Homo sapiens: one gene and its partners. The protein of the gene in region 1 binds, or shares a complex with, the protein of each later gene. Each region holds a gene or a part of one and is shown on either strand. Other genes may lie near its edges. The genes, in order: CWC27, PLRG1 and CWC22.

Region 1 (3,750 bases):
TTTGTCCCTCAGTGTCCTCATCTGTAAAATGGGAATATTAATACTCATTTCACAGTGCAGTTGTGAATATTAAATGAGATAGAATACAATGTTTGATATAGTATCTGACATATTTGACTTATAAATATTAGTCAATATTAGCTACAGTTACTATCTACTTAATTTCTCACTTACCTCCCATTTGTATTTGAGTTCTATCCACAGAAAACATCTTTCATTCTGACATATTTGACACATAAATATTAGTCAATATTAGCTACAGCTACTACCTCTGTACTTAATTTCTCACTTATCTCCCATCTGTATTTGAGTTCCATCCATAGAAAACATCTTTCATTTCCTCTTTTCACATATTTCCTCTTCCTTTACGTATCCAGTTCCTCCGACTGCAGTCTCCTCTCCCTTCAAGCCACCCCTCCTACAATTCAGATCTCCTCCTAAGTGCTACCTCCTTTGGAAAGTCCTTCTGCCCATCCTGTATGTGTTTGGTGCCCTTACTTTGTGCTAAGGTCTTGTATTTTCCTTGCCATGGCACTTGTCCCACTTTCTGTAAATTTCTCTCTCTTCACTGCTAAATTCTAAGTTCTGTGTGAAGCGTAACCATGTCTACCTTGCTCACCACTGTATTTCCAATGCCCAGTACCAGTGCCTGGCACACAGTAGGCTTAATAAAGAGTGTACATTTCCTCTCTCACAGCTCCAGATGTACTCCTCCGCAAACTTCAGTTAGTACAAAAGCACAGTGTTCCAATAACAGCTATCTGTAGAAGGAGGTTCAAAAAGGCTGCCACAGAATAAAGAACCTGGTCAAATAATACTGGGAAGTGCAGGTTTAAACAAAGTTAGGGTTCTGAACCATAGTAATTCTATAGTTCATAGTAATTCTATAGCAATTCATAGTATTCTATTCTAATAGAATAGAATCTTTTCTATTACTAAAGTGCGCTGGGAATTTCCAAGTTGGGAGGTGGGGTGGAGAAGTGTGTATTTCTGAAAATGTCTCCTGCAATCAGTGTTCTGCAGTGGCAAAGCTGGTTTGAGGAGATGCTTTCCGCTACTAGAACTTCCAAGTAAGCTGGTAGTTGAGGACGAGAAAATCTTTTAAGTAATTATTCTGCAGAGTTCACCGTTTTTAGGTCAGTAACTTCTGGACATAGAATTTGAGAGTTAGAAGAAATCTTATATATAATTCAACAAAGCTCCTTCTTTTTATAAGGAAACTGAGGCCCAGAAGCACAAAGCGACCAATCTATGGCCACGGAGCAGCTACATACAACAGGAAGAGCTAGGAGTAGAACCCGCACACCCGGTGGGTCCTAGCGACTTCTAAGACAAACGATGCCTCCGGTTACCTGGGTCGGCCAAGTGTTCCCACTTCAAGTTTTAGTTTTAAGCCATACCACAGTTAAGGTAGTTTTTCTCGGCCGCTTGCCCCCTTAGGCCTACAGTTACAGTCTCTCCCTCCTCCCTCCCTTCCACAATACACTTTCCCTGTAATCCCAAGCAGCTGGGGCTTGGCTCCTGGGGGGAAGATAGTTATTTTCTTTCCTTCAGAGTTTATGTTTGGAGTGTAAACTTTTTCATGTAAACAAAACAAACCTGTGAATTTTAAGGCCTCCGCCTAAATCCCCATGGGCGCTGCTCCGTACACGCCGCACCCTACCCTACCCTCCCTTGCGCTCCCTTCGGAGCTCGGACGCAGAGGCCCTGTAATTGCTCCTTACCTGGGACTGCCATGACGGTGGTAAGAGGGGTAACTCGAGCCTCTGGCTTTCGAAAAGGCGCTTGCTTCCCGCCAGCTGTGAGAACAAGGCACAGTCAAAGCGGCGTTTTCCTTCCCCCAGCGCAGCAGCACCCTCGCTACGGTCGGGAAGGGCCTGTACGCCTCTAGCGACGGCAGAACCAGTAGATGCGGATGCAGTTTCCGGACGAGTCATATTGCAGAAGACACATGGTCCGAACCATTACTGATAGTTTTGGAGGGGGAGTTAGTTTGATCTGCACACGAGAGTAGTGTAAACACCGCCAACACTTATGAAGTGTCCCTTCTAATATTGTAATACAAATAACATAAATAACATTAAGCTATGGTAACTTTACGGACTTTTCTCGTTCCCTGGAGTACATTGGAATAACCCTTCTCAGGGTTAGCGGTGCTCGGGTCCGGTAACAACATGGCGGCGTCCGTGAGGGGCTCCTTTGGGCAGGGGTAGTGTTTGGTGTCCCTGTCTTGCGTGATATTGACAAACTGAAGCTTTCCTGCACCACTGGACTTAAGGAAGAGTGTACTCGTAGGCGGACAGCTTTAGTGGCCGGCCGGCCGCTCTCATCCCCCGTAAGGAGCAGAGTCCTTTGTACTGACCAAGATGAGCAACATCTACATCCAGGAGCCTCCCACGAATGGGAAGGTGAGAGCCTCATCTAGGGAACTTGGGGTCCTGGGATCCCCAAAGTGAGATTTCCCGGATTTGGGGTGGGGAGTGGGTTTCAGGATCTCGTGGTAGGAAGAGACCACGAGAAGTGTTGTCTTTACTCCTGCATGTGGACAATGTTGCATCGAAACACTGATGTTGGTACTTTTCAGGATGTACTTGAAGAAGTCAAGTGGAGATTTCTCTACCTACCAGCATTCCGGTCCTATTTAATGCTTTAACCCAACTCATGCAGCCGATTTCTGGGGTCTTAGGTTTTTAAACAGACATTTTTGAGTTTGATATATTCTTTGCTTAACTAAGGTCATTCATTCTCCATTTCTTCTACAATCATTAATTGAACGCCTGCGAGGCACTGGGCACTGTACTAGGCGCCGGAGATACAAAGATGGATGGGTAAGGTAGTTGTTTTCCCGGAAAAGCTTATAGTTTAGTTTGTGAGACAGACAGGTAAACAAAAGCCTGTATGTCTGATAAGCGTGCTTGTGGAGAAGAGACCAGGTTGCTATGGCGGTACTGAGTAGTGAACAACTGGGGAAGTTAGGAAAAGCCTCATGGAAAAGATATCTTTTGAGCTGGTTTTAAAACCTGAGATGACTGTCAGTCAGAGAAAGTGGGAAATGGGGACTATTACCACATTAGAATGGGGAAAGGTTTCTCTGATTGATTTGATGGCTAATGTATGCCAATTCCCATCCAAGATGTTTGTATGCTGTACAAGGCAGAAGAGTCTGTTGTGGAATAAGTGTCACCTGAATTCTTAAATTGAGACCTAGCTTATATCACATATGAAATTTGATGAATCAGCATATTGGAGAAAATGAGATTGGAAGTATATAGTTGAATTAAGATAAGCTAAATTTACACAACATACCATCCTGTTTGTTACATGATTGCATCATAAATAATTTATACAGTCTTTTATTCATTGACATTTGATAATGTAATGAGAGCAATTTAAAAGTGAAACCAAAAATGCTGTAATTCCCAGCAAAAATGTAATGGATATTTTATGGGCAGACCAATTCTTTCAATTCTTTGTTTGAACTTCTCCTGGGCATTGTAGATTAGTATGTCCATCCCACCCCTCACCTATCTTATTTAATATCAATGTGAAAACCCAAAATACCTACCTCCTCCTATTTCCAAATGTTTCTTGAGGGCAATATCACCCCCAGTTAATAAACACTGGTAGAGATTGAATAGATTTACCATCCTGCCAGACAGGGCCTTCACACTTGCTGTTCCTCTGTCTAATCAAGTGTTGACCTTAGCAAAGAGCCCTTTCTTATCTACTTTCTATGAAATAGCAAACTTC
Region 2 (3,750 bases), on another chromosome or scaffold:
AAAGGTAAAGGACAAAGAAGGAACACTGCACATAATGCATTCCCAGACTGGAGCTGGATATGTAGAACCAAAAATATGCCACCACTCAAAAATCTTCATCATACTAACGAGAAAAGATGGGAGTAGAGGTACTAGCCAGGTACAATTTCAGCTCAGCAAGGCTCTGAGAGCAGCGGGAAGCTGAAAGCACATACAAAGTGATTGATTATAAAATAAAATACCTAAAAGGGACTCTCTTAATTACTGGGTATTTGTAAAATGCAATTAATTAATGGAACTTTTACTGTAAAAGGCCAAAAAAAAAAGTTAAATCAGCTTAAATTATGCCAAAACACCACTCATTATTGAATAATTAGCCCATGACTAGCTTATCTTTAAAGGACTCCCTCTCCCTGCTCTCTTCCCCTAGTATTAGAATGTTAAGTATTTTAGCAATTGAAAAAAAAAAACTACACCAACCTCTCTTCATCTAAAGGCACAGGTTTTCCATTATCAGCTACAAACATGTCATGGGTCCTCTTCAACGACCTGAACACAAGGGTGTGTACAGAATGTTTCTGTACCTCCTAAAAAAAAAGAATGTAATTACACACCTATCTACAAATTACACAAATCATAACCTAAAGTCAGATTGATTATACACTTCACGTGTTTAAATATGTAAAAAGCTTTATACCACTCACCATAGCTACTTGTTGCAAGCTACAGGAGTCAAGTTCAGAGAAGAGGAGGAAGCTCCTCTTTGGCTAGAACCTCAGGTTTAGCAACTGAGTGATGCCGGAGTTTAACTTACTCAATAAATATTTACTGAGCTCCTACTGTGTGTCTGGCAGGTATTGTGCTAGAATCTCACAATAGAATGATAAAAAGGTGGTCATGGTCCCTGTGCTCAAGAGGAAACAGACAAATAAAAAGTAAAATAATTCCACATTTTGATAAGTGCTATGAAGGCAACAAGCAAGGCGCTGAGTCAGGGAATGAAGGACTAAGTATAATTGTGAAAGATTTCACTAAGGTGATATTTAAGCAGAAAGGGAGTTAGCCTTGCACAAAACAGAGGTAAGAACGAACCAGGCTGATGGAAATGTCATGTAAAAAAAAGTTCAGTTAACTGAAATAATACAAGGAGCGCAGTACAGCTGTGTATGGAGGATGAGATGGTGCTTTGTAGCTGCAAGGGTAGACAAGGTCCAGATTAGGTAAGGTCTTTTAGACTATTACAACAGCCTATATTTTGTTCTAGCAACATAGGGTCAGTAAAGGGTTTTAAACAAGAAAGGTATGAACAACTTACGTTTTAAACAGAACAACTTATAGAACAAAATGGAAGCAAGGAAACCAACCAACGGGGAGCTAATGCACCAGTCCAGGTGAAAGATGATGTTGGTCTCAATTAAGGTGGACTGCAGCGGATATGGAGAAGAGTGAATGGAATCAATAAACATGTGGGGTAAGATGGACAAGACCAGCTAACAGCGTTGGCTGTTCATGCCAGGGAAAGATGTAAAGAACGGCAAGTTTTTCTGGGGGTAGAGGTGAAATAAGAGACGACCTGAACGCAAGATAGAGAAGACTACCAATCTTTTAGGGCACAGACTCACTGACACTGCCCCGAGGGCGGCAAGTACCAGTGGTCGATCACCAACAGAGGCCCCGCCTCCGAGGACACTTTCCAGCTCCCAAGAGTCAAACGAGGACTGGACGAATTATCTCAGGCTTCGCGCCCAGGCTGAACCTCCGACTCGGGTTCTCATCCGGCTTCTACCCCTTCCCCGAAAACCCGAAGAAGAGACCACTCGGCCTTGGCCAAATAGCTCCCCTCGTAGCCTCTTTTCTCTCTGGACTCCAAGTACTCTCAATCCCCCACGCGCACTGCCAAAAAAAACAGTCCAGAGACAAACGACTCTTGAGAGCCCCAGTGTCACTTTACCTCGACCATGATGCTACCGTGTATCCCACCTCCGGCAGGGAAGAAACTCTAATCACTAACGCAGTACCCGCCGCCACAGCTGTGCAGCACCTTCCGGAATTGGGCGCCCAGGCGGCGGATGTGATGCAAGCTCTGCGCACGCGCGCTAGTCTCCCTCGGCCATCTAGGATCAGGAGGCGGGTCTCCCTCCTCGGGACCGCCTCTAGGGCGGAGTCTCGAGGCTGAAAGCCGGAGACTCCTGGAAGGGCCTGGGTGGAGGGTTTCACTCGTCCCTCTGAAGAAATCTTAGAATTATGTTTTCTGCCTTAGTTGGGGTCCTGGTTGTTCGTGCTGTATTCCCCGGAAGCTTAACGCTTTTTATTCAGAGAACCTAAGCGTCTGGAGAGCAAACTCCCGTGGGCTCTATCTAAGGCATTTCCACTACCTTGATCTCTTTGGAGGTCGCCTGCGTGCTTTGTGTCTCCTGGTTCTAATCCTGGCGAGAAGCACTTGGACACTTGTAGGCTTAACACCTGAAAACAATTTCGCTTAAACAGTCCAGTAAACACTTGTTAAGTGAACGTTGAGGAATAGCTGTTTTAATTTGGAAAATTTTGACATGTAGTTATAACAAAACCCCATATTTATTTTCTGCTAATAGATTTTTTTTTTTAATTTCTCAAAACTGCATAGCTCTTGTCCATTTCCTAGTTGCCTGCTGATTATTGTGGCTTCAACAATGCCAGGGTACAGCTTTTCAAAGCTGGTAGAAGACACAATTGGAGACTTTAGCCATTTTTATTTATACATATCCTTGTGCCAAGTATTGGTATTTTTGCTTTCTACCCTGGTAAAATCTGTGGTTTGTGATCAACCCTACCCAATTATTTTTCTATGTAAAAAAAAAAATGGATGGACTTAGGCATTTACAAACTTAAATAGACAAACATTTTACTGGCCCTGTTTCAGTTTCACTAATCCTGTCCTGAGAGCATACTGCTTACACTTTGAGAGGGGGAAAAAATCTAGCAAAAGAATAGCAATATAAATCAACCTTACTTGGAAATTCATTAAAAACATTAAGGTCATGGGTTTTTGTTTGAGACAGAGTTTCGCTCTTGTCGCCCAGGCTGGAGTGCCATGGCGCGATCTTGGCTCACTGCAACCTCAGCATCCCAGGTTCAAGCTATTCTCCTGCCTCAGCCTCTGGAGTAGCTGGGATTACAGGCGCCCGCCACCATGCCCGGCTAATTTTTGTATTTTTAGTAGAGACAGCGTTTCACCATGTTGGCCAGGCTGGTCTTGAACTCCTGACCTCAGGTGATCCGCCCGCCTCGGCCTCCCAAAGTGCTAGGATTACAGGCATGAGCCACTGAGCCCTGCCTTAAGGTCATGTTTTTACTTGAAGATACAGCATCTCTGAATTTAACTGTGAGTTTGGCCTAAGAATTGCTTTTCTGTAAAGGTGGCAGGTGATGGTATTTCCTTGCAAGAAAATACCATAATTGTAAAATATATACTTGATGAACTAAATAATATACTCACCTATTAATAATAACTATAGAAAATAACATGATTTGAAATGACAATAAAACCATAGAAACCTAAGCAAGACTAATATATATGGCAATATATTAATTGTCTAGTTGGATCTATTAACTTTTTACATATTTAATCATCCTGGAGACATTAATTTAATTTCTCAATAACAACATGGTAATGATTGAGGTAAATTGCCTCGAATTTGCTCCTTTTAAAACACTGTCGTGAATTTATAGAATGATGTCATCCCCTTGAAAGTTTACAATATTTTAGATAAATATAGAACTCAAGTGACCCTA
Region 3 (3,750 bases), on another chromosome or scaffold:
GGCGGGTGGATCACAAGGTCAGGAGACAGACACCATCCTGGCTAACACAGTGAAACCCCGTCTCTACTAAAAATACAAAAAATTAGCCAGGCGTGGTGGCGGGCACCTTAGTCCCAGCTACTTGGGAGGCTGAGGCAGGAGAATGGCATGAACTAGGGAGGCGGAGCTTGCAGTGAGCCGAGATAGCGCCACAGCACTCCAGCCTGGGCGACAGAGTAAGACTCCGTCTCAAACAAAACAAAACAAAACAAAAAACAAAAAACAACTGGAAGGACACTTACAGGTGGAAAGGCAACATTCAGAACCAGAGAACAAGAATTGAGGAACAGAGAGAACTCATCAACTGTATCATAGTAGTAATTTACAATAATACAACGCTAACGCTGTGCTCAGTGCCTCATCTGCATTATTTTTCTTTATACTCAAAAAAAGACAATACAGTGAGGCAGGTATTGTATTACTACCTACATGTTTCCAGATGATGAAGCTGACACTAGAGACTTTAGGTAACTTGCTCCAAGTGACAGACCTAATAATAGCTGGATAAAACAGAAATCTTTGGTCTACTAGTCCATCACCCAGGACCAACACAAGTGGCTTTCCTCCACCTACTGATAACGCCTGTAACAATGCTTCTCCTCTCCTGGTCAAAACCACACTTTTAATGTCAATTTTAAATCTGCCCTTCCATAGTAGGATGATAATTTATGTTAACTCCTGAATTCACAAGCAATCCTAAAACAAGGTAAGTCTAAATACAGATAAGAGGTAGGTTAACTGATCTGCTGAGAACCAAGTTTGCTTGCTTATCTGCTATTTCGAGTCTCTGCACATCTAAAAATGCAAAGGAAACTCTTACCTAATTCTTGCATCTAGAATAGCCTTTCTCCAAATCCTGCCTTCTCCACTTACCTCAGAAGAATTGTTAGGATTAAATGGAAATAGGTACCGTGGTTTTTGCAGTTAAACTCAGTGAAATTAACTATTATATTTCCGTTATATAATGCTGTGTTGTAGGACCCAGAGCTCGTTAGAGAGGTGGAGCCTGGAGACCCAAGTTTGGCAGTTATTACCTCACTGGAGATAGTTCAAGTTATGGAAGGATCAAGAATGACAGATGAAGCGGGCACATGAGAAGCGAAGTGTCTTCAAGACTAAACACTAGACACTATCAGTATTTACAGGGCAAATAAATGAAAAAGAAGACGCTAATGAAATTTAAAACAAATAGTCAAAGGGATATAATGCCGGCAAGAGGCATAAGAGTGCAAGTAATTCAACTAACTTTTAATCAACTAGATCTCATTAATCCCACTCCCCTGACCCTGGGACCCGGGCACTAGGAAAGGGGCTTTGGCAAGCCCCAATGGACTCCAGAGGCTCTAAGTATAAAACGCAGTGCACAAGAAACAACACAGCACCAGCGTTGGTGCAGGATTTCAGACAGCTCCAGGAACTTCACAAGGAAGGTCAGCCGGTCCGCTCAGGCAGTCAGTTCATGGCAGCCCATTCCCTCCCCACCTGCTTGGACCTAGCCGCTCTCACACCCCTCTTGCGGGCCCGAGCGTAGCGAGAAGACCCACGCACACTCCAATGCCGCTCACAGCCGTATCAGTGAGCCCGCACCCACTCCTGGGGGTCTTTTACTTCCCACCCGATCCGGCGACCCGCCACCCCCACTCCGCGTCTCTGCCTGCGGGGACTCCACGGAGTTCGATAATTACCTAGAGCTCCACCGCGCCGCCATTACACCGGACGTACGTCACTTCCTCTTCCCGAGCACCGACGGTAGGAAGAAGGCGAATAGTGAAATATTTAAAAACTTGACGCTCAATTGGCTTGACACGTTATCCCTTTAATTTATTTCAAATACCATATCATAATACCAGAGTCAAAGTAGTCGATCCAGGCACACTGTCTTGTTGCCAAAATGGCGACAAAAAAGAGAAGTTGGCATGAACTACAAAGTCCGAAATCCAGCGCCTGTGCTGACGGAAATGAGGAAAGCATAATTGTAGTTTAGCGTGAAATGGCGCGGTGTACGATGGGAATTGTAGTTCATACAGATGCGCGCCAGCGAGTTAACATCCACGCTGCTCACTGGCAGCCTAGTAGTGTTCAGGGTCTAGCCGAATTTACTTTAAAACTATTTCACTGCATTTTGGGGAAATTTTTTTTAAAAAAGCAGTCAGTTGTCACTTTCCTTGAAAAATCTTAAGAGAGAGATTTTCCTGAGACTTTATAAGAGTTTGACCAACAGTTAAGTGCCTAATAAATTCCAAGATATCCAGGCCATAAGAATGGGAGAATATTAAATCATAAATAGAGTGAAATAATGAGGAAAAACTAATTCTATAGAGACTGTGTTGCCTCTCTTTTAGGTTAAGGTACCAACTGGTATGACCTGAGAATAAAGAGATTGCCTGGCTGAGTAGGAAGTAGCAGTTTGTACAGCGTGCAGAACTAGGGCATCAAACAGTTTCTTTAAACTTCACTTTTCACTAGTAACAAAACCTAAAAGTTCAACTACTTGCTATTTTGGAAACTCTCTTCCTAAACCAAGAATATCTTTATGTTATCAAATCTTTCATAAACCAGGACTGGTTTCTCCACACACTTCTCTATTACAGTTTTAGGGTGCTGTGCTTCCACTCCTTTCTGGAGGCAGAGTGTGATGATTAAGAATAAAAACACTGCAGTTGGACTACTTATTTTGAATCTTGAGTCCTTTTATTATTTATGGATGACTGGGGCAAGTAACTTCACATTCTGTGGCCGTTTCCTGATCTGTTAAATGGAAATACCAATAGTATCCATCCAGGCAGTAGTTTTAAGAATTGAATTAGTTGATACACAAGATGCATTTAAGATAATTGCTAGTATACAATAGTGTTATCTATTTTATTTCATATTTAAGATATTTGGCCATTGTTGATGGTGCATTTTGGTGCACCAATACAGGGCACAGGAGATGGATCTGGAGATGAACATTTGTATTCATATATTTAAAAACCCACAATACTACCGGTGATGGTTAATTCTGAATGTCAACTTGATTGGATTGAAGGATGCAAAGTATTGATCCTGGGTGTATCTGTGAGGGTGTTGCCAAAGGAGATTAACAGTTGAGTCAGTGGACTGGGGAAGACAGACTCACCCTTAATCTGGTGGGAACAATCTAATCAGCTACCATCGAATATAAAGCAGGCAGAAAAATATGAAAAGGCAAGACTGGCCTAGCCTCCCAGCCTATATCTTTCTCCCATGCTGGATGCTTCCTGCCCTCAAACATTGGACTCCAAATTCTTCAGTTGTGAGACTCAGACTGGCTCTCCTTGCTCCTCAAGCTTGCAGACAGCCTATTGTGGGACCTTGTGATTGTGTAAGTTAATACTTAATAAACTCCCCTTTTTATATATATATCCTTATATATAGATATATATATTAGGATATATATATAAGGATATATATAAAAAATAGGATATATATGTAATAGGATATATATACGTGTGTGTGTGCGTGTGTGTGTATCTATCTATCTATCTATCTATCTATCTATCTATCTATCTATATCCTATTAGTTCTGTCCCTCTAGGGAACCCTGATGAATATACTACCTCTACAACTATCAACAGAAATAGGAAAGTTAGGGTTGAGCAGAGGAGAACTAGATGGAGCTGGAAAAGAATTGGATTTGTCAGTTGGGTCCTTCAGGAAGCAGACACTGAGAAAGAGTTATGAATAATAAAG

What was found.
Region 2: CWC27 (region 1) and PLRG1 share a complex: the UniProt entries of both Homo sapiens proteins name them as parts of the minor spliceosome.
Region 3: the proteins of CWC27 (region 1) and CWC22 are in contact, whole or in part, in a crystal structure (PDB 6YVH), measured with the Homo sapiens proteins. Residues at the interface, in NP_005860.2 of Homo sapiens: Arg381, Glu382, Asp383, Gln384, Thr385, Leu386, Leu388, Leu389, Phe392, Lys393, Lys395, Leu396, Thr397, Ile400, Glu412, Asp415, Asp416, Glu417, Gly418, Trp419, Met420, Ser421, His422, Val423, Leu424, Gln425, Phe426; in NP_001362958.1 of Homo sapiens: Leu239, Arg242, Lys243, Tyr245, Arg246, Asn248, Asp249, Lys250, His270, Glu271, Val272, Leu275, Glu276, Thr279, Leu280, Leu281, Glu283, Arg284, Thr286, Asp288, Ser289, Val292, Val307, Ser308, Pro309, Arg310, Gly311, Thr367, Met369, Leu372.

What each region holds. Positions count from the first base shown.
Region 1 is NC_000005.10:64,766,781-64,770,530, forward strand, and holds the start of CWC27 (spliceosome-associated protein CWC27 homolog), read left to right. Parts: upstream 1-2,149; 5' UTR 2,150-2,366; coding exon 2,367-2,408; intron 2,409-3,750. Other genes in the region: protein SREK1IP1, read right to left, coding at 1,725-1,737. UniProt on the Homo sapiens protein: As part of the spliceosome, plays a role in pre-mRNA splicing. Probable inactive PPIase with no peptidyl-prolyl cis-trans isomerase activity. As a component of the minor spliceosome, involved in the splicing of U12-type introns in pre-mRNAs.
Region 2 is NC_000004.12:154,548,370-154,552,119, forward strand, and holds the start of PLRG1 (pleiotropic regulator 1), read right to left. Parts: upstream 2,032-3,750; 5' UTR 1,940-2,031; coding exon 1,931-1,939; intron 567-1,930; coding exon 460-566; intron 1-459. UniProt on the Homo sapiens protein: Involved in pre-mRNA splicing as component of the spliceosome. Component of the PRP19-CDC5L complex that forms an integral part of the spliceosome and is required for activating pre-mRNA splicing.
Region 3 is NC_000002.12:180,005,346-180,009,095, forward strand, and holds the start of CWC22 (pre-mRNA-splicing factor CWC22 homolog), read right to left. Parts: upstream 1,953-3,750; 5' UTR 1,522-1,952; intron 1-1,521. UniProt on the Homo sapiens protein: Required for pre-mRNA splicing as component of the spliceosome. As a component of the minor spliceosome, involved in the splicing of U12-type introns in pre-mRNAs. Promotes exon-junction complex (EJC) assembly.